Linked DNA regions of Homo sapiens: all the other regions are linked to region 4. Evidence: fine-mapped expression QTL. A gene starts in region 4. Each other region holds a variant in brackets. All regions are shown on one strand. Distances are between the middles of the regions.

Evidence for each region.
Region 1: its variant is fine-mapped to the expression of COQ7 in atrial appendage (GTEx, PIP above 0.99).
Region 2: its variant is fine-mapped to the expression of COQ7 in aorta (GTEx, PIP above 0.99). The same link has a PIP of 0.9 or more in esophagus muscle.
Region 3: its variant is fine-mapped to the expression of COQ7 in atrial appendage (GTEx, PIP 0.97).
Region 5: its variant is fine-mapped to the expression of COQ7 in whole blood (TOPMed, PIP 0.96).

The regions. Positions count from the first base shown.
Region 1 is chr16:19,002,424-19,007,595 of GRCh38, reverse strand. The region is part of intron 1 of TMC7 (transmembrane channel like 7); the gene reads right to left. Among named protein-coding and RNA genes, the nearest start is that of TMC7, 21 kb to the right of the region's middle. The variant T/C (reference allele first, on the strand shown) is at 2,382.
Region 2 is chr16:19,041,767-19,046,938 of GRCh38, reverse strand. TMC7 (transmembrane channel like 7) reads right to left here. Exons shown (of 16, transcript NM_024847.4): 10 at 1,938-2,055; 11 at 1,501-1,598. Among named protein-coding and RNA genes, the nearest start is that of COQ7, 23 kb to the left of the region's middle. The variant T/C (reference allele first, on the strand shown) is at 2,871.
Region 3 is chr16:19,104,380-19,109,551 of GRCh38, reverse strand. No RefSeq gene overlaps it. Among named protein-coding and RNA genes, the nearest start is that of ITPRIPL2, 7.0 kb to the left of the region's middle. RefSeq lists enhancers at 450-539, 1,688-1,787, 2,865-3,723. The variant C/T (reference allele first, on the strand shown) is at 2,233.
Region 4 is chr16:19,065,431-19,070,430 of GRCh38, reverse strand. COQ7 (coenzyme Q7, hydroxylase) reads right to left here and starts at 2,817. Exons shown (of 6, transcript NM_016138.5): 1 at 2,694-2,817. The coding sequence starts at 2,766. COQ7-DT (COQ7 divergent transcript) reads left to right here and starts at 2,740. Exons shown (of 3, transcript NR_119381.1): 1 at 2,740-2,850. RefSeq lists an enhancer at 2,454-2,603 and a silencer at 2,634-2,793.
Region 5 is chr16:18,851,728-18,856,727 of GRCh38, reverse strand. It overlaps SMG1 (SMG1 nonsense mediated mRNA decay associated PI3K related kinase), which reads left to right. Exons shown (of 63, transcript NM_015092.5): 30 at 1,824-2,072; 31 at 2,861-3,145; 32 at 4,266-4,410; 33 at 4,523-4,661. Among named protein-coding and RNA genes, the nearest start is that of ARL6IP1, 53 kb to the right of the region's middle. The variant A/G (reference allele first, on the strand shown) is at 2,668.

The sequences.
Region 1 (5,172 bases), 63 kb after region 4:
TTTAGCTAAGGCTGAATGAAGGGAAGGGGTGAGACCCCTGGATATTTGGGGAAAAGCACCCCAGGCAGAGGGAACCCATAAGTGGAAAGGCCCAGCGGCAGAAGAGTGTGTGACAGGTTGGAGGAAGAGTTAATGAGCAAGAACCTGGTGGGCGGTTTCGTTGGTGGCCTCCAATGAGCCACACTGGCCTGGCCCTCTGCGTGGTCCCCTCCTTGAATCTGCACAGGACCTGTGCTTGCTTTAACCAAAGGACTCAATGGAAGTAATGCTCTGCCATTTCCAGCCCAAAGTCATAAGAGGGCCTTGCAGTAGCCACTTCTGTGTTCTCGGGCCAGGGTTACCTGGTAGGAAGTCCAACTGCCTAGGACAATGAGGTGGAGAGGAAGAGCCCCTAAGCCTACAAAAAGAACCAACAACCTGGGTGACTGCAAGAACCAAGGCCCCAGGCTCGTGTCTTCAAACCCCTGGGACAGCCAGGCACGGTGGCTCACACCTGTAATCCCAGCATTTTGGGAGGCCGAGGCAGGCGGATCACCTGAGGTGGGGAGTTCAAGACCAGCCTGGCCAACATGGTGAAATCCCATCTCTACTAAAAATACAAAAAAAAAAAAACTAGCTGCACGTGGTGGCACGCGCCTATAATCCCAGCTACTCAGGAGGCTGAGGTAGAAGAATAGCTTGAACCTGGGAGGCAGAGGTTGCAGTGAGCCGAAATTGGACCACTACACTCCAGCCTAAGCGACAGAGCAAGACTTTGTCTCAAAAAAGCAAAACAAAAGAAAACAAAAAAAACCCCTGGGGCATCCTCACCAGGCATCGCCATGATGAGGCCATCTTGGGTGCTCCAGCGCCAGCAGACATCCCAGGCAGCAGTGCAAGCGGGCTCCCCCGTGCCCTGCATCGTCCCTGATGCACAGAATCAGCAGAAATAACAACATGGCTTAAGCCAGCACATTTGGAGCAGTGTGTTGAGCAACAATAGGTATTTAGGACAGGGAGAATGGAAACGTTAAAGTCAGAGGGGTGGCTGGGGTCGAACCAAGTCAGGCTTTGTAGACTGTGGCAGGACCTTGGGATGTTGTGCTTTGACTGCATTTTAAAAGGTCACCCTGGGCCGGGCACGGTGGCTCACGCCTGTAATTCCAGCACTTTGGGAGGCCAAGGCAAGGGGATCACCTGAGGTTGGGAGTCCAAGACCAGCCTGACCAACATGGAGAAACGCTGTCTCTACTAAAAATACAAAATTAGCTGGGCACGCTAGCGCGTGCCTGTAATCCCAGCTATTTAGGATCGCTTGAACCCAGGAGGCGGAGGTTGCAGTGAGCCGAGATCGTGCCATTGCACTCCAGCCTGGGCAACAAGAGCGAAACTCCGTCCAAAAAAAAAAAAAAAGGTCACCCTGGAGGCTGCAAGGGCAAGGCTGGGGTCAGGACTTGCTACACAGCCTGTTTATGAACATTAAAGGGGATCACATGGGTAGAAGGTCCCAGGCAGTGCTCGGCACACACAGAGCTCCATAAAGGCACCAACCGGATGAGGATGGGCAGGGGCAGGGCCAGGTGGGGACCGGTCAAGGCCTGGCTCTGACACTGTAATCTTTGCCTTTCTCGGATAGGCAAGTTCAGACACAATGGAGCAGCTGTCCCACTGTAGATGACACATGGACACGTGGCTGGGGCCCTGCCAATCACCATGTGCAAGTCTACGAGCCTCACCCACCCTTCTACCTCCCTGCCTGGCACACCCTGAGGATATGACACACTTCCATTAGTGGCAGTGGCTCCCTAGAGCCAATATGAGGGTAGGGTGGGTGTGGTCCCTGAAAAGGAAAAGGGTCTAAGCCCTGCATGGAGGCTACCCTCCTGCAAGCAGAAACAAAGAGCTATTATTAGCCACAAACAAAGGTCTTTGAATATAGAACAGCATGGACCTACTGAATATTCAACAGCTGTGGGGTCAGGGGCCCCAGGCTGGAGCCTGGGTTGGTTTAAAATACTGGCCTGTCACCCACCAGCCAAGCCACCCCAGGAGAGACCACAGCTGCCTCAGAGTCACATTTTTCTCATCTCGGGAATGGAGGATCTAATACCATGGGCCTCATCAGCATGATGGTGAGGAAGGAGTTGCAAACAACATGAACAACACTGGCTAAGATTTATTGAGTACTTGCCTACCTTGTACCAGGCCATTTAAAGTATTTAACATGCGGGCCAGGCGTGGTGGCTCACGCCTGTAATCCCAGCACTTTGGGAGGCCGAGGCGAGTGGATCACGAGGTCAGGAGATCAAGACCATCCTGCTAACATGGTGAAACCCCATCTCTACTAAAAATACAAAAAAATAGCCGGGCATGGTGGCGGGTGCCTGTAGTCCCAGCTAACT[T/C]GGGAGGCTGAAGCAGAAGAATGGCGTGAACCCAGGAGGCAGAGCTTGTGGTGAGCCAAGATTTTGCCATTGCACTCCAGCCTGGGCGACAGAGCGAGACTCCGTCTCAGAAAATAAATAAATAAATAAATAAATAAATAAATAAATAAATAAATAAAATAAAGTATTTAACATGCATCGTCACACTTAATACTCCGAACTACTCTTTAGAGAGAATTATCCCCATTGTGCTGGTGTGGTCTCAGCTACTTTGGGAGGCTAAAGCAGGAGGATTGCTTGAGCCCAGGAATTCAAGACCAGCTTGGTCAACATAACAAGACTCCAATTCCAAGAAAAAAAAAACCCAAAAGACAAACAAAAGAATTATCTCCATGTTACAGATTAATAACTGAGGCTCAGACAATTAGTAAGTGTTGCTTGCTCACACAGTAAGTGTTGGAACTAGGAACCCATCACAGGTTTATCAGACCCCAAAGCTGTAGTCTTCACCATGAAAAAATTCAGGGGGCCATGGATTTAAAAGTGTTTGTAAATGTTAAAATACCGTATAAGCTGGGCACGGTGGCTCACGCCTGTAATCCCAGCACTTTGGGAGGCTGAGGCAGGTGGATCACTTGAGGTCATGAGTTCAAGACCAGCCTGGCCAACATGGTGAAACCCCGTCTCTATTAAAACTAGAAAAATCAGCCAGGCATGGTGGCAAGTGCCTGTAATCCCAGCTACTCAGGAGGCTGAGGCAGGAGAATTGCTTGAAGCCAGGAGGCGGAGGTTGCAGTGAGCCGAGATCACGCCACTGCACTCCAACCTGGGCAACAGAGCAAGACTCCATCCCAAAAAATATATACAAATAAATAAATAAAAATAAAAATAAAATTCCATACAAATCAACTAGGTAATTATCCTGTTTTTCATACACCACCTACCCCCTCCTAGGAAGAACTGTTCTGATTTTTCCTCTTTAGACACTCCAGGGAAGTTCCTCAACTTCAAACAAAAAATGTCACGACCATGTCTTTGAACACAGGCATCATTATTTTTATAACTAGGATCCACCCCCTCGTTTGCATATAACACACACTTTTCCCAGCATGACGTCACCTCATTTCTCACGCCAACCTGCAGAGGTAAGCACAGAGGGCTTCACTTGCCCTGGTATTTTTTTTTTTTTTTTTAAATTTATTTTTTTATTGATAATTCTTGGGTGTTTCTCACAGAGGGGGATTTGGCAGGGTCATGGGACAATAGTGGAGGGAAGGTCAGCAGATAAACAAGTGAACAAAGGTCTCTGGTTTTCCTAGGCAGAGGACCCTGCGGCCTTCCGCAGTGTTTGTGTCCCTGATTACTTGAGATTAGGGATTGGTGATGACTCTTAACGAGCATGCTGCCTTCAAGCATCTGTTTAACAAAGCACATCTTGCACCGCCCTTAATCCATTTAACCCTGAGTGGACACAGCACATGTTTCAGAGAGCACAGGGTTGGGGGTAAGGTCACAGATCAACAGGATCCCAAGGCAGAGGAATTTTTCTTAGTGCAGAACAAAATGAAAAGTCTCCCATGTCTTCTACTTTCTACACAGACACAGCAACCATCCGATTTCTCAATCTTTTCCCCACCTTTCCCGCCTTTCTATTCCACAAAGCCGCCATTGTCATCCTGGCCCGTTCTCAATGAGCTGTTGGGCACACCTCCCAGACGGGGTGGTGGCCGGGCAGAGGGGCTCCTCACTTCCCAGTAGGGGCGGCCGGGCAGAGGCGCCCCTCACCTCCCGGACGGGGCGGCTGGCCGGGCAGGGGGGCTGACCCCCCCCACCTCCCTCCCGGACGGGGCGGCTGGCCGGGCAGAGGGGCTCCTCACTTCCCAGTAGGGGCGGCCGTTGCCCTGGTATTTTTTATTTTTTTTGAGATAGGGTCTTGCTCTATTGCCCAGGCTGGAGTGTAACCTGAATTCCTGGGCTCAAGCGATCCTCCCACCTCAGCCTCCCAAATAGCTGGGACTACAGATGCACACCACTACACCTGGATAATTTTTTTCTTTTTCAGTTTTTAGTAGAGACGGGGTCTTGCTTTGTTGCCTAGGCTGGTCTCAAACTCCTGGGCTCAAGTGATCCTCCCGCCTTAGCCTCCCAAAGGGCTGGGATTACAGGCATAAGCCACCACCCTTGGCCTGCTCTGGCTTTCCAACAGGGAAACTGAGGCCCAGGCATGGTGACTTGCCCAAGACTTGAGTGTCAAGACAGACTCCTGGTTTTACCACAGGTCATTTCACCACTTAGAGCCTTGATGTCCTTCTCATCCTTAAAGAATAAGATCATCTCATTACAGTTATTGTCAGACATTCTACTGAATTGGTCCAGCCAAGAGCCTTGCTGTTGGGATGGCCACTGTAGTCCTGTGGTCAGCGTGGGCTGCTGTTGACCATCTGCACAGGAGCAGGTAGCATATTTCAGATATTGGGGTGCCTCTAAGAATGCCTAGAACTTCTTGGTCACTGGGGCCAGATTTCAGCAATTAGGAGATTATTACTTAGGTAGGAGGATGACTGGGTAATTCCAGGAGACATGAGGGAGCAGGGCCAGGCATAGCCAATTTTTCTGCCATATACTATTCTTCCAGGTTAAGGACAAAGTCTCTCTGAGGCTTAAAAGCGGTGTCTTGCTCACAGAAGGCCCTCCATCCGGGCTGGGCACTGTGGCTCACGCCTGTAATCCCAGCACTTTGGGAGGCCAAGGCGGGTGGATTACCTGAGGTCAGGAGTTCAAGACCAGACTGACCAACATGGTGAAACCCTGT
Region 2 (5,172 bases), 24 kb after region 4:
ATGCAGAATATAATGAACTCTGGAATCATTAAGATCAGGTTCCAAGTCTCAGATCTATAGTTCAGCACTGAAATTCATACAATCCTTGACTTTTTTTTTTTTTTTTGAGACAAGGTCTCACTCTGTTACTCAGTATGGAGTGTAGTGGTGCAATCATAGCTCACTGTACCCTCGACCTCCAAGGCTCAAGTGATCCTCCTGCCTCAGCCTCCCAAGTGGCTGAGACTACATGTGCATGCTTGGCTAATTGGCTAATTTTTGTGTTTTGTAGGGACAGGGTCTCGCTATTTTGCCCAGGCTGGTCTCAACCTCCTGGCCTCAAGTGATCCTCCTACCTTGGCCTCCCCAGTGCTAGGATTATGGGTGTGAGCCACTGTGCCCAGGCTTCCATATTTATTTTTAAGGGCTCACTGGACCTCTGGCCTCTGCCTAGATTATCTGCATATGTGGGTAAACAGTGGTTAAGTGAACAGAGAATGATAACAGAAATGACAACACAGTTTATGATAATCATGCTGGTGATAGCTGATGTTTTGTTGAGTTCTATACTGTGGAGTGTTCTCAGTGCTTTTATCTGCATTAATTATCCCAGTTACTCCTCACCACAAAGTTACTGGGTGGGTACTACTACTATCCCCATTTTACAGATGAGAAAATAGGCACAGAGCTTAAATAACTTGCCCAAGGTCACATGACTAGCAAGGAGCAGGGAGGGAGTTTGAACCCAGATCGGGAGACAGGTGTCCACTGCAGCCTGGAAGGTCTGCACCTTTTGTGCTGATGGCAGAAGGTCATCCCCAGCAAAACCTCATGGAAAGCGACCCCATTTCTGCTCTTCATGCTGCCTTTAGATGGGCAACTAATGAATGCTGAGGTCAACAGCCTAGAGCTGCTTGAAAGTTTCCAGTTGTGAACAGACACAATGGTTCAAACCTGTAATCCCAGCACTTTGGAAGGCTGAGGCAGGAGGATCGTTTGAGGCCAGTTCGAGACCAGCCTGGGCAACATAGCAAGAGCCCCTCTCTACAAAAAATTAAAAACTTGGCCGGGCGCGGTGGCTCATGCCTATAATCCCAGCACTTTGGAAGCCCGAGGCAGGTGGATCACGAGGTCAGGATATCCAGACCATCCTGGCTAACATGGTGAAACCCCATCTCTACTAAAAATACAAAAAATTAGCCAGGCATGGTGGCACACACCTGTAGTCCCAGCTACTCGGGAGGCTGAGGCAGGAGAATCGCTTGAACCTGGGAGGCGGAGGTTGCAGTGAGCCAAGATCGCGCCACTGCACTCCAGCCTGGGTGACAGAGCAAGACCCTGCCTCAAAAAAAAAAAAAAAAAAAAAAAGAAAGTTACCAGTTGTCAGATTTCCAGGGCTGTAGAGTCATCCAGCAGCTTCTGGAATGCAGCTGCAATGGGACCCTCCAGTTGTGTGTGTGTGTATGTGTGTGTGTGCATGTGTGTGGTGGGGGGGATAATATGGGCACCCCTCGCACTTACTTTCTAGGAAAATCCACGAAGAGTGTCACAGCCAAGATGATGATGAAGTCGAAGATCATCAGCTTGTACATTTCCTGCCCAACTTGGGTCTCCCAGCACTGAAATCAAAGAGAGTGAGGGAAACTGAAAGACCCTAGCTGAGGCAGAGAAAACCAGGCTCCCAAGACACCTTCTAATTCCCTTTCCAACTCCAGATCCTGTGGCTCCAGTGAGGGCATCAGCTGATGCAAACTCTGAGCCTCAGCACAGACCTTGGTTTCCAAGCCCTCAGAAGTGCCTGGGGTTAGACTCCATGGGGCCAGACTCTGTCTCATCACTAGAACAAGAAAGCGAAGCAAATGCAGTTCAAACCCATGGCTTCAACCGCTGTTCTCTTGACCATGACACTGTATTCCAGAAGGACCCACCCAGCCGAACGCCCCCGCCCCGCAACTCACCGGGTAGAGTTTCTGGTTGTAGCCGCAAAGGTCACATGTGTCATCATCACAGGATGTGATCTTGGAGCCCAGCGTGAACACCAGGACACATATGGTGGCCAGCCGCATAAAGACACACCTTCGGGGAGAGAAGGAGAGAGGATGGGAAGATGAGGCCCTCAGGGTGGCTGGTCCCTTGGAACTGGGGCTAGGGAATGTAGAAGCTGCCTTTTTTTTTTTTTTTTTTTTTTTTTGAGATGGAGTGTTTGCTCTGTTGCCCAGGCTGGAGAGCAGTGGTGTGATCTCAGTTCTCCTGCCTCAGCCTCCCAAGTAGCGGGGATTACAGGTGTCTGCCACCATACCCAGCTAATTTTTTTTCTATTTTTAGTAGATCTGAGGTTTCACCATATTGCCCAGGTGGTCTCGAACTCCTGGCCCCAAGCAATCCGCCTGTCTTGGGCTCCCAAAGTGCTGGGATTATAGGTGTGAGCCACGGTGCCCAGCCCAAAGCTGCCTTTCTTAAAACCCCAGCCAGGCATAGTGGCTCACGCCTGTAATCCCAGCACTTTGGGAGGTAGAGACCAGAGGATCACGTGAGCCCTTAAGTTTGAGAACAACCTGGGCAGTAAAGTAAGACCACCACCCCCTGGCCGTCTCTACAAAAAAATAAAAATAAAAATGAGCAAGGTGTGGTGGTGACCCAGCTACACAGGAGGCTGAGTCAAGAGGATTGCTTGAGCCCAGAGGATTGTTTGAGCCCAGGAGATCAAGGCTGCAGTGAGCGGAGATTCAGCCACTGTACTCTAGCCTCAGGGACAGAGTGAGAAAAAACAAACAAACAAACAAAAAAACCAATGTCGGGCGTGGTGGCTCATGCCTGTAATCCCAGCATTTTGGGAGGCCGAGGCAGAGGGATCACCTGAGGTCAGGAATTCAAGACTGGCCTAGTCAACA[T/C]GGTGAAACTGTCTCTACCAAAAATACAAAAATTAGCTGGGTGTGGTGGCACACGCCTGTAGTCCCAGCTAGTTCAGAGGCTGTGGCAGGAGAATCGCTTGAATCTGGGGCACAGAGGTTGCAGTGAGCCGAGATCACACCACTACACTCCAGCCTGGGCGACAGAGCAAGACTCCATCTCAAAGAAAACAAAAGCAGGCCGGGCGCGGTGGCTCACGCCTGTAATCCCAGCACTTTGGGAGGTAGAGGCAGGCAGATCATCTGAGGTCAGAAGTTCGAAACCAGCCTGACCAACATGGAGAAACCCCGTCTCCACTACAAATACAAAATTAGCTGGGCATGGTGGCACACATCCCTGCAATCTCAGCTACTCAGGAGGCTGAGGTGGGAGAATCTCTTGAACCTGGGAGGCGAAGGTTGCGGTGAGATAAGATCACGCCATTGCACTCCAGCCTAGACAACAAGAGCGAAACTCCATCTCAGAAATAAATAAATAAATAAATAATAAGCAAATGCCTAAATGGGTACAGAATTTCTGTTGGGGCTGTTGAAAAGGTTCTGGAGATGGATGCTGGTGATGACTGCATAACATTGGGGCTGTACTTAAATGCCACCAAATTGTACTCTGACAATGGTTAAAATGGCAACTTCTATGTTACATATATGTTACTACAATTTTTTTAAAAGATCAGAAAGCTGGGACCTCCTAATTCTGTGATGACATAGTGACACTACAAGACATGACACAGTCCTGAAAAGAACCAATGGAATCTTTTCTGTATCAGGGTCGCGGGATGTCTGGCATGCTGAAAAGTGAAAAAAAGTATGCTGCAGAGATATCACATAAATATGATCCTATTTTTGGAAGAAAAAACGTGAGTGTTGGCACAAACATAAGGAACTGTGCAGACAAAAACACACTGGATTCAAGGGAGGTGGGCGGAGACGGTGAGTTTTTGTTCTTGTTTTTTTTTTTAAGACAATTTTCCATTGTTTGGTTTGTAATACAAAAATAAATTAAGTAGCCGGGCACGGTGGCTCACGCCTGTAATCCCAGCACTTTGGGAGGCCGAGGTGGGCGGATCACGAGGTCAGGAGATCGAGACCATCCTGGCTAACACAGTAAAACCCCATCTCTACTAAAAGTACAAAAAATTAGCCGGGCATGGTGGCGGGGGCCTGTAGTCCCGGCTACTTGGGAGGCTGAGGCAGGAGAATGGCGTGAACCCGGGAGGCGGAGCTTGCAGTGAGCCGAGATCGCGCCACTGCACTCTAGCCTGGGTGACAGAGCGAGACTCCGTCTCGAAAAATAAAAATAAAAATAAAAAAATAAATTAAATAGAAACATTTGGCTAACATGGTGAAAGCCCATCTCTACTAAAAAATACAAAAAATTAGCCGGGCGTGGTGCCGGGCATCTGTAGTCCCAACTACTCGGGAGGCTGAGGCAGAAGAATGGCGTGAACCCGGGAGGCGGAGCTTGCAGTGAGCCAAGATCGAGCCACTGCATTCCAGCCTGGGCGACAAAGTGAGACTCCGTCTCAAAAAAAAGAAAAAAAAAAAAAAGAAGGAATAATTTAAAGAATAAGGGAGACTGGGCATGGTGGCTCATAAGCCTGTAATCCCAACACTTTGGGAGGCTGAGGTGGGAGAATTGCTTGAGCCCAGGAGTTTGAGAACAGCCTGGGCAACGTGAGGAGATCCTGTCTCTACAAAAAATTTAAAAATTGGCTTGGCATGGTGGTGTGCACCTGTAGTCCCAGCTACTCGAGAGACTGAGGCAGGAGGGTCACTTGGGCCCAGGTGGTCAAGGCTGCAGTGACCTACGATCATGCCACTGCACTCCAGCCTGGACCCAGTCTCAAAAAAAATAAATAAATAAAATGGAAAGAAAAGAATGGGGGAAAGAGCGAACCCACGCCCTCTGCTCACTGTTCTCATTACTAACACCACCTTCTGTGCCTCTGCTGGGATACAACAGGAAGGACACGGCACCCCTGATGAGGTTTCCTTAACTAAAAACTGACACAGAATCTACCAAAAACTCTGAATCTCCACAGTCATTTATAGCAACTATGGGCATAGAAAAACAAATTAAACACACCAGGAAGAAACAATGGACGAAATCCAGAATAGGAGCTATTCTACAGGAAAATGATCCAGTTTCTTCCACAAATCAAAGGCCTAACAAAAGGGGAGGGGAAACTCTGAAAATAATAAAAGAGATTTAGGACACATGACTACCAAACAGCATGTGGGCCTTGTTTGGATTCAGCTTTGAACAAATCAAACATGGAAAACC
Region 3 (5,172 bases), 39 kb before region 4:
GAAGCTAAGACAGGAGGATCATTTGAGTCTAAGATGTCGAGGCTGCTGTGAGCTGTGAACTATGATCATGCCACTGCATTCCAGCCTGGACAACAGAACGAGACCCTAACTCTAAAAAAATATAAAAACTAATCTCAGCTCGAGGGTCATACAAACACGCTCAATGTACCTGGAGGCTACTGTCACAAAATACCACAAACCAGGTGGTTTAAGCAACAGAAGTGTATTCTTTCAGAGTTCTCAAAAGCAGGAATCTGAAAGGGTGTCTGCAGGGCTGTGCTCCCTTTTGAGGCCCCAGGGGAGAACCCCTCCTTGCCTCTTACAGCTTCCGGTGGCTCCAGGCGCCCCTTGGCTTGTGGCTATCTGACTCCCATCTCTGCCTACATCTTGCATGGCCTTCTCCTTTTCTGTTTCTTTTCTTTTCTTTTTTTGAAACAGGTTCTCATTCTGTCACCCAGGCTGGGCTGGAGTACAGTGGGTGATCATGGCTCTCCACATCCTTGACCTCACCTCCTGGGCTCAAATGATCCTCCTGCCTTAGCCTCCTTGAATAGCTGTGACTACGGTGTGCACCACCACACCCAGCTAATTTTTTATTTTTTGTAGAGATGGGGTCTCACTCACTGTGTTGCCCAGGCTGCTCTTGAACTCCTGGACTCAAGCAATCCTCCTGTCTCGGCCTCCCAAAGAGCTAGGATTACAAGTGTGAGCCACCGTGCCTGGCCTTCTGTTTCTTATAAGGACACCTGTCATTGGATTTAGAAGACACTGGGGTTATCCCATTGATCTCAACTGGAGATCTGTAATTTAAGGATCCTTAATTTAAAGATTCTTAAATCATGTCTACAAAGACGCTTTTTTTCAAAGAAGGTCACATTCACAGGTTCTAGAGGTTAGGATGAAAACATATATTTGGGAGGACCATAATTCATCCCCGCTACACCGAGTAAATGACGTATTACTATTGCTATTTTTCCTGCCTGTAATCTGTTTCCATAGGTCATTTCCTCTAAAGGGCTCAAGGTACAGGCCTCAGAACTTTGCACTTGGCAAATCTACTATATGTGTCAGAGCAAATACAAATGTATTCATTCATTAATTTACTGCTCATATTTGTGGGTTCTTAACATGTGCTAGGCCAAGGGAAATGTGAAGGAAAACACAGGGCTTTGAGCTTACAGACGAAAATGGTACATACACAGTGTGTAGGTGGATTAAGAAAATTGTCACCGTTGGCCGGGCACAGTGGCTCATGCCTGTAATCCTAGCACTTTGGGAAGCCAAGGCAGGCAGATTGTCTGAGCTCAGGAATTCGTGACTAGCCTGGGCAACATGGCGAAACCCCGTCTCTACTAAAAATACAAAAAATTAGCTGGGCATGGTGTCACACGCCTGTAATCCCAGCTACTCAGGAGGCTGAGGCACGAGAATTGCTTGAACCTGGGGGGCGGAGGTTGCAATGAGCCGAAATCGTGCCACTGCACTCCAACCTGGGCAACAGAGTGTGACACACACCTGTAGTACCACCTACCCATGAGGCTGAGGTGGGAGGTTCACTTGAGCCCAGGAGGTTGAGGCTGCAGTGAGTCATGATTGCGTCATTGCATTCCAGCCTGGGCCACAGAGCAAGACCCGGTCTGAAAACAAACCAAAAAAAAAAGGAACCAAAAACCAAAACTCCTTTAGCATTTAATATTTGACAAAGGTCACTCCTATGGCTTTTGTTTTCAATAGCTTAGCAAGTATATATACAGACACTCCTCCCAGAGTTTCTGATGTCTTGGAGGTGTGTCTCACAGAGGATGAATGTGAGCACTGATGAGAGGAAAAGAGGGAGAAGTGATTCATTTCCCACAGTGGGAGCAGGGGGAGCTCATGGACAGGTAACATGTAACCAGGTTTTGAAGGACAGGAAACGATAGCCCATTTGATGCCTGTATCACACGCCTCCTAGATGTGGCGATTCCTCAGCAGTATCTCTTGAAATGCTCAGAACAAGCCCAATGAGGCAGGTGCTGTTATTATTGCCATTCACATATGAGAAAAGTGAGGACCAGCCTGGCCAACATAGTGAAACCCTGTCTCTACTAAAAATACAAAAAATTAGCTGGGCGTGGTGGTGCACACCTGTAATCCTAGCTGCTCGGGAGGCTGAGGTAGGAGAATCACTTGAACCCAGGAGGCAGAGGTTGCAGCAGGCCGGGATCGCTCACACCAGCCCGGGTGACAGTG[C/T]GAGACTCCGTCTCAAAGAAAAGAAAAAAGAAAAGTGAGGCTGAGAGAGGTTAAGTAACTTATTAGAAAACACTGCAGGGGCCGGGCGCAATGGCTCATGCCTGTAATCCCAGCACTTTGGGAGGCCAAGGTGGGTGGATCACTTGGGGTCATGAGTTTGAGAACAGCCTGGCCAACATGGTGAAACCCTGTCTCTACTAAAGATATAAAAATTAGCTGGGCATGGTGGCACATGCCTGTAATCCCAGCTACTCAGGAGGCTGAGGCGTGAGAATCACTTGAACCCAGGAGGTGGAGGTTGCAGTGAGCCAAGATCGTGCCACTGCACTTTAGCCTGGATGACAGAGCAAGACTCCATCTCAAAATAAATAAATAAAAATAAAAATCACACTCCAGCCTGAGCAACATAGTGAGACCCTGTCATAAAAAAAAAAAAATTAGCTGGGTGTGGTGGTGTATGCCTATTGTCCCAGCTGATCAGGAGGCTGAGGCAGGAGGATCACTTGGGCCTGGGAGGTTGAGGCTGCAGTGAGCCTGATGATTGCACCACTGCACTTCAGCCTGGGTGAGAGGGAGAGACCTGTCTCCAAAAAGTCACACAGCTGGCAAGTCTGACTACAGAGCTGGACTCTTCGTCCCTGTACTTCACTCTTTTACATTGTAAAGGGCTTAATAGGACAGAAAGGAAAAGAGCAGTGTAGTTTATGTTCATGTATATTTCCCTAACCAGATGATGAGGCTCTTGAAGTCAGGGACTTTGCCATATTCATTTTGGTATCCCGAGTAGCCTACGCCATGCCTGGTACTTTACAGAGATTTGTTGAATGAATGAATGAATGAATGAATGAATAGGATTTTGACCAGCAGAAATTCAAGGAGACCATTCCAGGTAATACAAACAAAATGTGCATATGCTTGTGGTCAAGGAGCATGTGACCGCTTGGGGGAACAGGACATCAGTCCTATTGTTACGGAAGTGTAGAATTTTTGAATGGACACCGTGGTTGCACTTACTAGCCATTCATTTCAGCTTTCCTCTAGGGAGCTTCTACAGCAGGAGCTGGGAAGCAAAACACATTCCCACATTTCCTGGCATGAAGACAGGAGCCACCCGAGACACCCGCTTTGCTAGTGTGGCTGGCAGCAGAGGTGGGGTGGTTCTGAAACTCCGCAGCTGGAGCAGGGGCCCTGGTTCTGCAGGCAGCTTCCTGGTGGGGACAGAGGCGGCGGCTTCCTTGGTGGCCCAGTTTCTGCTCTGTGGCTTAAGAGTTATTTCTGGAAGTTCCGCTCAGATTCCTTTACTGCAGCCTTCCCAGTGATTCTCAGACTCTCTGTGATAAATGACCTGTTGCTGGTTTGTTATTTAAAATTTCCTGTTGGTTCTACTCTGCAAGACTATCACATAGCTCATGTCATGTGCAATTCACAGACAACTTAGACTTTTGACGATTATTTTATTAAAAATCTGCTTTTGGCCAGGTGAGGTGGCTGGCGCCTGTAATCTCAGGACTTTGGGAGGCCAAGGTGGGAGTATTGCTTGAGACCAGGAATTCGAGATCAGTCTGGGCAAAAGAGCAAGATCCCATCTCTACACAAAAAAAAATTGTTAATCACCTTGCATGTTCAATATTTGACCAGGCCTATCTTTATTTAGAGATTATCCACACTGACCTGTGCCTAGAAAGATGAGCCTGTCAGTCACACTCTTGTAAATGTCACAGCAATGTCAAGTTGATGCAGATGTTTCTAAACACTCTCAAGGGACTGGACCAGGACCACCAGTAACAAGGGAGCCCAATGCACAACTTTGCCAACAATGCCACCCAGTACTGAATGGCAACCAAGCAACCCATGCCGATCTCTCTTGGGGAGTCTGAATGAATGGGACACAGAAGCCCTGAGGAAGGAGAATTCAGAATTAAGCAGAAGCCGTAAATCAGCAGAAGCTATAGAGTAGGCAAAGGCCAGGGGGCAATGGCAACCTCGGTGGGTCAGGGGAGAGTAGGAAGAAGCAAGGTGACCAAACAGCTGAGTCCAAGAATGTTGGGCTATCGGAGTTGATTTGGGGGCACAAAAGCTGCCGTGGGGCCTGAATGACCTTACAGCTCTTTTTTCTGGCTTGAGTAAGTAGTGCTGTCTGGGTTCCCTGTGATCCTTCTAACAATCCCTGCTGGAGTCTGAGATCGTCCGAATGTGTCTCTTCCTTGCCACCCAGACTGGTTGGATGGTGGCAGCATGGGGTGGGGAGGCTCTTCAGCCCAGATCCTCAGAAAACAGAACCTAAGGGTATGGCTTGCCTATGAGTGTTTTATGGGGAGTGGTTCAAGCCCAAGGAAGCTTTGCAGCAAACACAGCTGGTTCCTCCATCCCCTTCAAAGAGGCTGCACAGAGCCTCTTAATCTCTAAACAGTTGGGGAGAAAAAAGGGCAAACAATTGAGCTGATGATTCTTCCCATCTCCTGTCTCTTGTTGGTCAAAGGATACCCACAGGATATTTACTGCCCCCACTCCGGGCCTTGTCATCGGCTGATGCAGAAGCCAGCGTCCCTGAAAGTCCCTGCCTGTACATGTGGGTGGTCTCTCCTTATCGGTCAGCACCACACAAAGAGGTCCTTAGTCTGTGGCAGGAGTGGCAGCAGCCAGTTCTTTCCAGCTGTGAAAATAGAATGATCCCTTGCTAGAGCTGCGCTTGTTAAGAAACAAGGCAGGCCAGGTACGATGGTTCACACCTGGAATCCCAACACTTTGGGAGACAGAGGCGGGAAGATCACTTGAATCCAGGAATTTGAGGCTAGCCTGGACAACATAGTGAGACCCTGTCTCTACAAAAAATTATTTTAAAAAAATTAGCCAGGCGAGGTGGTGTACACTTGTAGTCCCAGCTACTCAGTGGCTGAGGTGGGAGGATTGCTTGAGCCCTGGGAGGCTGCGGCTGCAGTG
Region 4 (5,000 bases):
ATGTTTTAGGGCTCTTAGCCGTGACTACCATGTCTTTTATGCAAACTTCTTTTCACTTAGGCTAACTTCAACAGCCAGCGAATATGTGGAAAAAATTCATTTTAGATACATATGTGGTTCTTTCATGACAAAGGCTTGAGTGCTTTGGACACAAGGTAGTGAGGTGGGTTGGTGAAATTTGGGGTGGCTCTGAACTTGAAATCTTCTACCAGATGGGGTTGTAAATGTCACACTTTTAACAAAGAAGCGTGGACCTAAGTTCTGAAGCATAGTGACCCAGCTTTGGTCTACTCCTCGCCATGATCCTCTCCATCTCACTGAGCATATCTGACTAAAGAGACTGCATAGGCCGGGTGTGGTGGCTCATGCCTGTAATCCCAGCACTTTGGGAAGCTGAGGCAGGTGGACTGCTTGAGACCAGGAGTTCAAGACCAGCCTGGCCAAAATGGTGAAAACCCATCTCTACCAAAAATATAAAAATTAGCCAGGCATCGTGGCACGTGCCTGTAGTCCCAGCTACTCAGGAGGCTGAGGCAGAACAATCACTTGAACCCAGTAGGCAAAGGCTGCAGTGAGCTAAGATCATACCATTACACTCCAGCCTCGGTGACAGAGTGAGACTCTGTCTCAAAAAAAGAAAAAAAGAAGCATAAAACATGTGTCCCATCTCTAACACTAGCCTTGGGAAAATCAGGATCGACATTTCTTACATATAAAATTGGCTGGGTGCGGCGACTCACGCCTGTAATCCCAGCACTTTGGGAAGCCAAGGAGGGAGAATCACTTGAGGTCAGGAGTTCGAGACCAGCCTGGTCATCATGGCGAAACCCCGTCTCTACCAAAAATTCAAAAATTAGCCAGGCGTGGTGGTGCATGCATGCAGCCTCAGCTACTCGGGAGTCTGAGGCAGGAGAATCACTTGAACCCAGGAGGCGGAGGTTGCAGTGAGCTGAGATCGCGCCACTGCACTCCAGCCTGGGCGACAAAGCAAGACTCTGCCTCAAAAAAAAAAAAAAAAAAAGGCAATAATCAGGCTCTTTCCTTTTTAAGGGAAAACATACAATAATAAACTTTTCTTACTGAGTTATGAGGATAAAATAAGATATAAGAAGCAAAGTAACTTTATAAACAGAAATGAGTCTTATTCTGTTATGCTCACTGGCTGAACAGAGCAGCATTAAAATTCACATTCAACAACCCTCGGAGTTTTGCCTGCATTACCATATACTTTAAAGTAAAATTGAGGCTCGGTGCTAGCTCTCAAATGCATCACTTTATGTCCATATTTTCCCAAAGTGTGAAACATGCCAGTGTGGTACCTACAAAATATTAAGTGGCTTATGGATATGCAGCAAATAACCCCATGTAGTAAGGGGTACTCTTTCAAAATCTCTTGCAATCTCTTTCATTAAGGAAGATAACTCCATTTACAGCTGGTATAGCCTTAACACTTTCCCAACACTTGCTAATTTCCCCTTTGTAACAGAAAGACAGTATTTAATACAATTTCATAACTTTTTAATTTGTTTGTTTTTTTTTAATGATTACTCACCCATTTGTGGCAAGTGGCACTGGCTTCCCATTCACCATAAGGATTTTGTTTCAAGGAAATTAATTTAATTTTTAAATGGGACATAGCTATACAAAAAAACACATCTAGTAATCAAAAGTTCAAGCAGTACTGCCATTAGGCAAAAATCCCGAAAGTGGTACACGGTAATTTAACGTTGAGAAAACGACTTCATGAAATTTCTTTTTTTTTTTTTTTTTTGCGCGGGGGAGACAAAGTCTCGCTCTGACGCCCAGGTTGCAGTGCAGTGGTGCAATCTCGCCTCAAAGCAATCTCTGCCTCCCGGGTTCAAGCGATTCTCCTGTCTCAGCCTCCTGAGTAGCTGGGATTACAGGCACCTGCCATCACGCCTGGCAAATTTTTGTATTTTTAGTAGAGGCGGGGTTTCACCATGTTGGCCAGGCTGGTCTCAAACTCCTGACCTCAGGGGATCCTCCAGCCTCGGCCTCCCAAAGTGCTGAGATTATAGGCCGGAGCCACCGCGCCCGGGCTCATGACAATTTTCTAAGGCAGCACAGATGAAACAAGGAAAGCAGGAACCAGGGTCCAAAACCATGTCTCTCTACTCTAAATTCGATGCTCCTTCCACTACACTGATGGCTTTCACAGTTTACAGTGCATGCAAATCACCTAAAGGTCCTGTTCACAGATCACAGATACCGACCAAGTAGGTCGGGGTGGGGCCCGAGAATCTGTATTTCTAGCGAGCGCCCAGAAGTAGCGGAGGCTGCTGGTCGTCGGGCTACCCTTTGCCTGGCAAGGCCCTGGGCAAAGACTACAAAGAGAGAGACTCCCGGAGACGCTGAATTTTCAGTGTCGCCAACTGTCCTCGACTCGGAACGCTGGCCGCACCTGCCGTGACATCACTGCACAGGGGTGCAATTGCGTCACTCCCCAGGCGTCACTGCCGAAACAACCCCTGTCCTCCTGTCACTCTCGCCGCTAACTACAGACCCCGCCCCGCCCGCCAGCGCCCCGGAGGCCGAAGTCACGCAGTCGCGCTCCGTCGCAGGCCTGTGACGTTACGAACCTCTCCCCCGTGACCTCTTCGACCCAAACCTCAAGCGAAAATTCCCTAGCTCGCTAGACCGGCGCAGGACTGTGACTGCGCGCCTCCTTTTACCTGAGAGGGACCGCCGGGCCCCCGGGCGCAGCCGCCAAAGGCGGGGAGCCGCCGCCGCCCCGGCGCAACTCATTGCCGGAACTAAAAAAAGCAACCACTTCGTTGAACGGAACTGGCCAATAGTGCCCTTGGCTCGGACTGATGACGCACAGCAGACGTAAGGAAGGCTCAGCTCGCCCGCGCACCGGTGGGAACGCCCCCTAGCTCTGCGCTAGGGGTTAGATTGGTTAGATACGACAAATAAAAAGATTTTATTGGGTGGGGTCACTGTCAATCACTCGGAAGACCAAGGCCAAGGCGCCTTGGGTTGCCAGGGAGATGAAAATGCTAAATTGCTGTTTAGAAAGATCAGGACAAGGTTATGATTTCTCACCCAAGTTCCTGGGGAAAAGGATCATGAGGGAATTACTTATTAACAAGGCACGGTATTTCCTGCTTTACCTACGTGGAAGGAGATTTTTTTTTTTATTTGTATCCTACATCTACTTTAAAATAGTAAGCCTGGGCAACATAGCGAGACCCCGCCTCTACAAATAATTTTAAAAATTAGCCGGGTCTGGTGGAGCACACCTGTAGTCCCAGCTACTCGGGAGGCTGAGGTGGGGGGATAGCTTGAGCCCGGTAGCTCGAGGCTGCAGTCAGCCGTGATTCTGCCACTGCACTCTAGCCTGGGCCCTGTCTGAAAAATAAATAAATAAATAAAATTATATGTATATCTAAATTACATGCACCACATGGTTAATGGTGTTATATAGTGTTATCTCTATTGGTGGGCTGAAAGCCAACTTTAAACTTCTTCCCGGTCTTTTCTCTATTTTCAGAAACAGAGAACATGTTTTATCCTTGGTATCCACCTTAATGTACTGTGTGCATGTATGCATGTATATTTGTGCAAATTGGAATTTTTTGAGAAGGGAGGGGAAATTTAGCAACATACTTTAAAAAGATCATATAATACAGCAGTCTTACTTTTAGGAATCTACTCAACGAAATAATTTTTAAATGAGTAATGTACATGAGGGCAAAAATCAAAGATGCGTGTCTGCAAGGATATACAACGTTTAATATTGGCAACATCAGGGGGCTGGAACTGGGAGAAGGGAGCTTTCACTTTCTACTTTACACCCTTGGATTATTTATATACTTTATCCAAGTTTACCATAAAATATTTTAAGATGGAATACAATTGTAAAATTATTGAATTCAAGTTTTTAGTTTTTATATCACTCTAGTGTTCAAATTGACACACCAAAATAATTTAAAATTATGATGAACCCAAATACTACTTAGTGAGGATGTTGTAGCACTCTCATGTAAAACTACTGAGTGTCTGAATCTGGCGCTCAAAAGCCTTAAAATGTTCAAAACCTTTGCTGTAATACCACTTCTAGGTCTCTGTTTCCTTTTTGTTTTGTTTTTTGTTTTTGTTCTTTTTAAATGGAGTTTCACTCTGTCGCACAGGCTGGATTGCAGTGGGGAGACCTTGGCTCACTGGAACCTCTGCCTCCCGGGTTCAAGCGATTCTCCTGCCTCAGCCTCCCAAGTAGATGGGATTACAGGTACACACACCACCACGCCCAGCTGAGACTGGGTTTCGCTGTGTTGGCCAGGCTGGTCTCAAATTCCTGACCTCAAGTGATCCTCCCACCTTGTCCTCCCAAAGTGCTGGGATTATAGGCGTGAGCCGCCACGCCTGGCCTAGGTCTCTGTTTCTAAGGAGAAAAAATGTTGACAAAGATTTATAGATGTGCCCATTATTTATTACTGGGAAAATTTGGAAACAAAATGTTAAGCAACAATTGAATATCAAAACATCATGTCCGAGTGCAGTGGCTCACGCCTGTAATCCCAACACTTTGGGAGACTGAGGCGAGAGGATCACTTGAGCCCAGGAGTTCAAGACCAGCCTGGGCAACACAGTGAGATTCCATCTCTACAAAAAATTTTAAAAATTAGTCAGGCATGGTGGTGTGTGCCTCTGATCCCACCTACTTGTGAGGCTAAAAGGATCACTTGAGCCCAGGAGGTTGAGGCTGCACTGAGCCATGATCACACCACTGCACTCCAGAGTGGGTGATAGACCTAGACTCTGGCTCAAAAAAAAAAAAAAAAATCCAACTGTATGATGTTATGTAGCCCATTGAAATGTTTGTAAAGAGCTTTTAATAACAGGAGAAAACACTAGATTCTTCAGGAAAACACATATTAAGTGAAAAAGAAATTAGAATACCAAAGTTCTTTCCTTCTTTTTCCTTCTTTTTCCCTCCCTCTGTACTTTCTATCTTAAAAAGAATTTTGCCAGGATTA
Region 5 (5,000 bases), 210 kb after region 4:
TCTGGCAGGGAAAACTGACATCAAACACGGTGACCCAACATAGCAAGACCCTGTCTCTGCTAGAAGAATTTAAAAAATCACCCGGGTGTGGGCTGGGCGCGGTGGCTCACGCCTGTAGTCCCAGCACTTTGAGATGCTGACGGGGGGTGGATCACGAGGTCAGGAGATTGAGACCATCCTGGATAACACGGTGAAACCCCATCTCTACTAAAAATACAAAAAAATTAGCTGGGCGTGGGGGCGGGTGCCTGTAGTCCCAGCTACTTGGGAGGCTGAGGCAGGAGAATGGCATGAACCAGGGAGGCGGATCTTGCATTGAGCCAAGATCACGCCACTGCACTCCAGCCTGGGCAACAGAGTGAGACTCTATTTCAAAAAAAAAAAAAAAAAAAAAAAAATCACCTGGGTGTGGTGGCATGTGCCTATAGTCCCAGCTGCTTAGGAGGCTGAGGTGGGCGGATAGCATGAGCCTGGGAAATGAAGGCTGCAGCGAGCTATGATCATGCCACTGCACTCCAGCCTGGGTGACAGAGTGACACCCGGTCTCAAAAAATAAGAAGGAACAGCAAATAACGAGGGCACCTGATTTAATCCTAGGAATCAGAAAAAGACTTGTGGGGAAGTAACATTTAAGCTGAGAGTTAAGATAAAGATGAGGAAGAAGGCAGGCTGACTTGGTTAGAAAAAACGTGTGCAGGCCAGAGAAAATAATGATTCTTAGTTGACTCAGTTCACCTAAGAGAGAGTAGGAAGAGGTGGAGCGCTGGATGAGATTGAGATTGGAATTGAATGCTGGAAGGCATCAGTAACAAGCTGAATTCAGGAGTTTGGGATTTGTCAGAATGTCAGTGAGAAGTCATCAGAGGCTTTTAAGCAGGGAAGTGAAATGTTCAGATTTACCCTTGTGTAATGTCACTTCAATTGCAAGTTGGAAAATGGATTAGAAGAGTATAAGAATGGGGTCAAAGGGACCTAAGTTATGCTGAAGTCTCTGCTAAAGAGGGTAACTAGGGTGGCAGTAGGGAAAGAAAAAAGCAAATGGGCCATGAGGGTTGAAAGTAAAGTCTGTGATGGTGGCCAAGTACTTTCACAGGCAGCCGGCTCATCCTGTGCCCTTCCTTGAGAAGGGGAAAATGGAAAAAGGGAGTAAAAGATTTGGAGGGTGGTGGAAAATGAGCTCCATTTGGCATGACTGACATTAGAGGAAGCACTCTTGAAATAAATAGAGTGTAGATGACCAGTTGGCAGGTGGGATTCAGATATCAGGTCTGGGTGAAGATTCAGCAGTTGTCAGCATTTCTGTGGTAATTGAAGACACAGGAAAAGATGATGATGTCCAGGGAGAGTATGCAGTGGGAAAAGTAGAGAGCCTAGGACTGAGTCCAAGGAGCACTGGTGTTTAATGGATGAGTGATGGAAGAGAAAGAGACTGAGGATTCTTCAGCAAGATAGGAAGAAAACCAGGAGAATGGTGGAAGGGCAGAGAGTACTTACAGAAGAAGTGCGGGGGGATGGTTTAGCCTTCCCTGCTTCCTTGCTTTCCCTACCCGTTGGCCCAGGCTTTTTGCCAAAGATTCAGAAACTAAAAAGAAATTTCTTGAAATGAATGACTTGACTTTACTTCATTGTATACATTTAATTTAGCAAAACCTGTTCATTGTATCTCAAGCACTGTGCTAGCTGCTAGGGATTTGAGGATGAGTTATCTTTGTTTCAGGAGGTGGTGCAGAAGAGGGATAGTTGGGGAATAATTTTTTGGCCATGTTTCCATGCAGTCTGGTTTAGACAAATTAGGAACTAATAAAACGTTTTCCTCTCTTCAGAACAAACAGTCCCAATTAGAAGCCATCTCATGGAATTAGGTCTAACAGCAGCAAAATTTGCTAGAAAACGAGGGAATGTGTCCCTTGCAACAAGACTGCTGGCACAGTGCAGTGAAGTTCAGCTGGGAAAGACCACCACTGCACAGGATTTAGTCCAACATTTTAAAAAACTATCAACCCAAGGTCAAGTGGATGAAAAATGGGGGCCCGAACTTGATATTGAAAAAACCAAATTGCTTTATACAGCAGGTTAGTAAAATTAATTATGGTTAATACATGAGTATAATAAAAATCATGTATATGAATGTTACTGTGTATGTATGGTATAAGGTAGTAATAGCAAAGTTGATCATTTCCAGCTGTTGCAGAACATTTGCATCCTGAATAATAAGTTGCTTATTACTGACTTACCTTTATAATTCTGTGCTTTCAAAAGAATTTTGTTGCAATGTATTACAGTAAGAAGTATTTCCGGAGATCATTGGTCACTGAATTTACATGTTTTTTTAACTTTATTATTTTGGGCCAGGTGCTTATGCTTACAATCTGAGCACTTTGGGAGGCCAAGATGGGAGGATTGTTTGAGCTTAGGAGTTTGACACCAGCCTGGGCAACAGAGTGAAATCTCAGCTATACTGAAATTCAAAGAAATTAGGGGGGTGTGGTGGAACATGCCTGTAGTTCCGGCTGCTTGAGGGGCTGAGGCAGGAGAATTGCTTGAGCCTGGGAAGTTGAGGCTACAGTGAGCCCTGATTGTGCTACTGCACTCCAGCCTAGGTGACAGAGTGAAACCCTGCCTCAAAAAAAAAAAAAAAAAAAAAAGTTTAGTATTTTGGCTAGGCAT[A/G]GTGGCTCATGCCTGCAATCTCAGCACTTTGGGAGGCTAAGACAGTAGGAGCCTCCTATGCTTGAGCATAGGAGTTTGAAACCATCAACATGGTGGTGTCATCACCATGTTGATATTTGTTTCCTAATCCAAGTGCCTCCCTCCATCATTTGCTTTTAAAGGTTCTAAGTTCTGACTTTGTGGTTTTCTGTAGGCCAGTCAACACATGCAATGGAAATGTTGAGTTCTTGTGCCATATCTTTCTGCAAGTCTGTGAAAGCTGAATATGCAGTTGCTAAATCAATTCTGACACTGGCTAAATGGATCCAGGCAGAATGGAAAGAGATTTCAGGACAGCTGAAACAGGTTTACAGAGCTCAGCACCAACAGAACTTCACAGGTCTTTCTACTTTGTCTAAAAACATACTCACTCTAATAGAACTGCCATCTGTTAATACGATGGAAGAAGAGTATCCTCGGATCGAGAGTGAATCTACAGGTAGAGTTGCTTTATTAGCTTTAGAATATTAATTTTAGAAGCTATATTTTTTTCTGTTTTAAAGTTTATAATGTTATGCTGGCTATAATTTTCCATAAAAAGTATATCTGTGGAAGTTGAGTTTATTTTATTGTTGGGAAATAACTAAAACATATTTAGGATCGAATGCCATTTTGGGAGTCACTGAACTCTGCCCCCAGGTATTTGCTTTTATGGACTTAGATGTTTTTGCTGGCAATAAGATCCTGCCCCTCATATCAAAAAATTTCACCTCACAATAGAAGGAGCAACAAAGATTTAAAATAGTTACCTGTGTTCCTATTGATTGGTGGAACACAGAAACTATATAAAGATTCAAGTTTCCCATTCTGGTGCTAGTGCTAGTAACACAAAGATACCTTACAAATAGGGTAGTTGATTCTGTCCATGTTTGAGTGCCTGTTGTGGAAGGCATAATTCCCCTGTTTTTAAAATTTGAGAGAAAATTTGGGAGATGGTTTTCTTTGCTGAAACATGAGAATATACCTTCATTTTGTTGTTCTGAAGCCTAAGAGTTTAATTACTTACATTGGTGTTAATAATTTTGATAGAGTCTTGATATTCATAAAGGATATGTCTTGTGGTCATTATAAATCTTCATCTTGTCAGATGCACTATAGCAGGCAGTGTCTTCACCTTTAACAAGGGAATAAAGATGTTTGCCTCATGAGTCTGTATGAATGAAACAGTATACTCATCACCTATTTATTATTTTTGCCAGAATGATTAAAGTGAATCTGATCATGAGGAAATAGCCAGTCCGATTCATAATGCAAGACATTCTACAGCACAGCTGACACCTGACTGTTTACAATGTTCAGTGTCATGAAAGATATTGATGTCTTCCACAGGAGATAATATAATCTTACTTGGGAAGCTAATGAATTCATTTCAACATACCAACCTTTTAGAGAACATAATTCATATTTGTGCCTTCTCAAGTTATGTACAGTAATATTTTGGAACTTTTGATTGCTTGCAGATAAAAACCTAAAATGCTAATGGAAATGTCGTTAGGAATTTATGAATGTAACATTGTTGAGTTCTTTTATTATAATTATTTTTTTGTCCATTTTGGCAGTGCATATTGGAGTTGGAGAACCTGACTTCATTTTGGGACAGTTGTATCACCTGTCTTCAGTACAGGCACCTGAAGTAGCCAAATCTTGGGCAGCGTTGGCCAGCTGGGCTTATAGGTGGGGCAGAAAGGTGGTTGACAATGCCAGGTATGTTTAAATGTGTAGTTTATTTATGCATTGCATAAATAGATATTTAAATGTCTGCTGATATGGTAAAGTTTGGGTAGCTGAAATACTGATGACTTGTTTATTTTTATAGTCAGGGAGAAGGTGTTCGTCTGCTGCCTAGAGAAAAATCTGAAGTTCAGAATCTACTTCCAGACACTATAACTGAGGAAGAGAAAGAGAGAATATATGGTATTCTTGGACAGGCTGTGTGTCGGCCGGCGGGGATTCAGGCAAGGAAAACATGGTGCTTGGGGCAAGATTGCTACTCCAAATCATTGATTTTGAGAAAATTGATCATATATATTTGATAAAATACTGAATGGGGCTTACCAATTGTTGTTGTAAATAAAAACTTCTGCATTTTAAGATGAAAGTGAGTTATATTTTTCTAAGAAGAATATACTTTTGAGAAAATAAGGCATTTCCTTAGAGTCCTGTTAAAAATAGGTGAGTTGGCCTGGCACGGTGGCTCACACCTGTAATCCCAGCACTTTGGGAGGCTGAGGTGGGTGGATCGCTTGAGGTCAGGAGTTCGAGACCAGCCTGGCCAACATGGCAAAACCCCATCT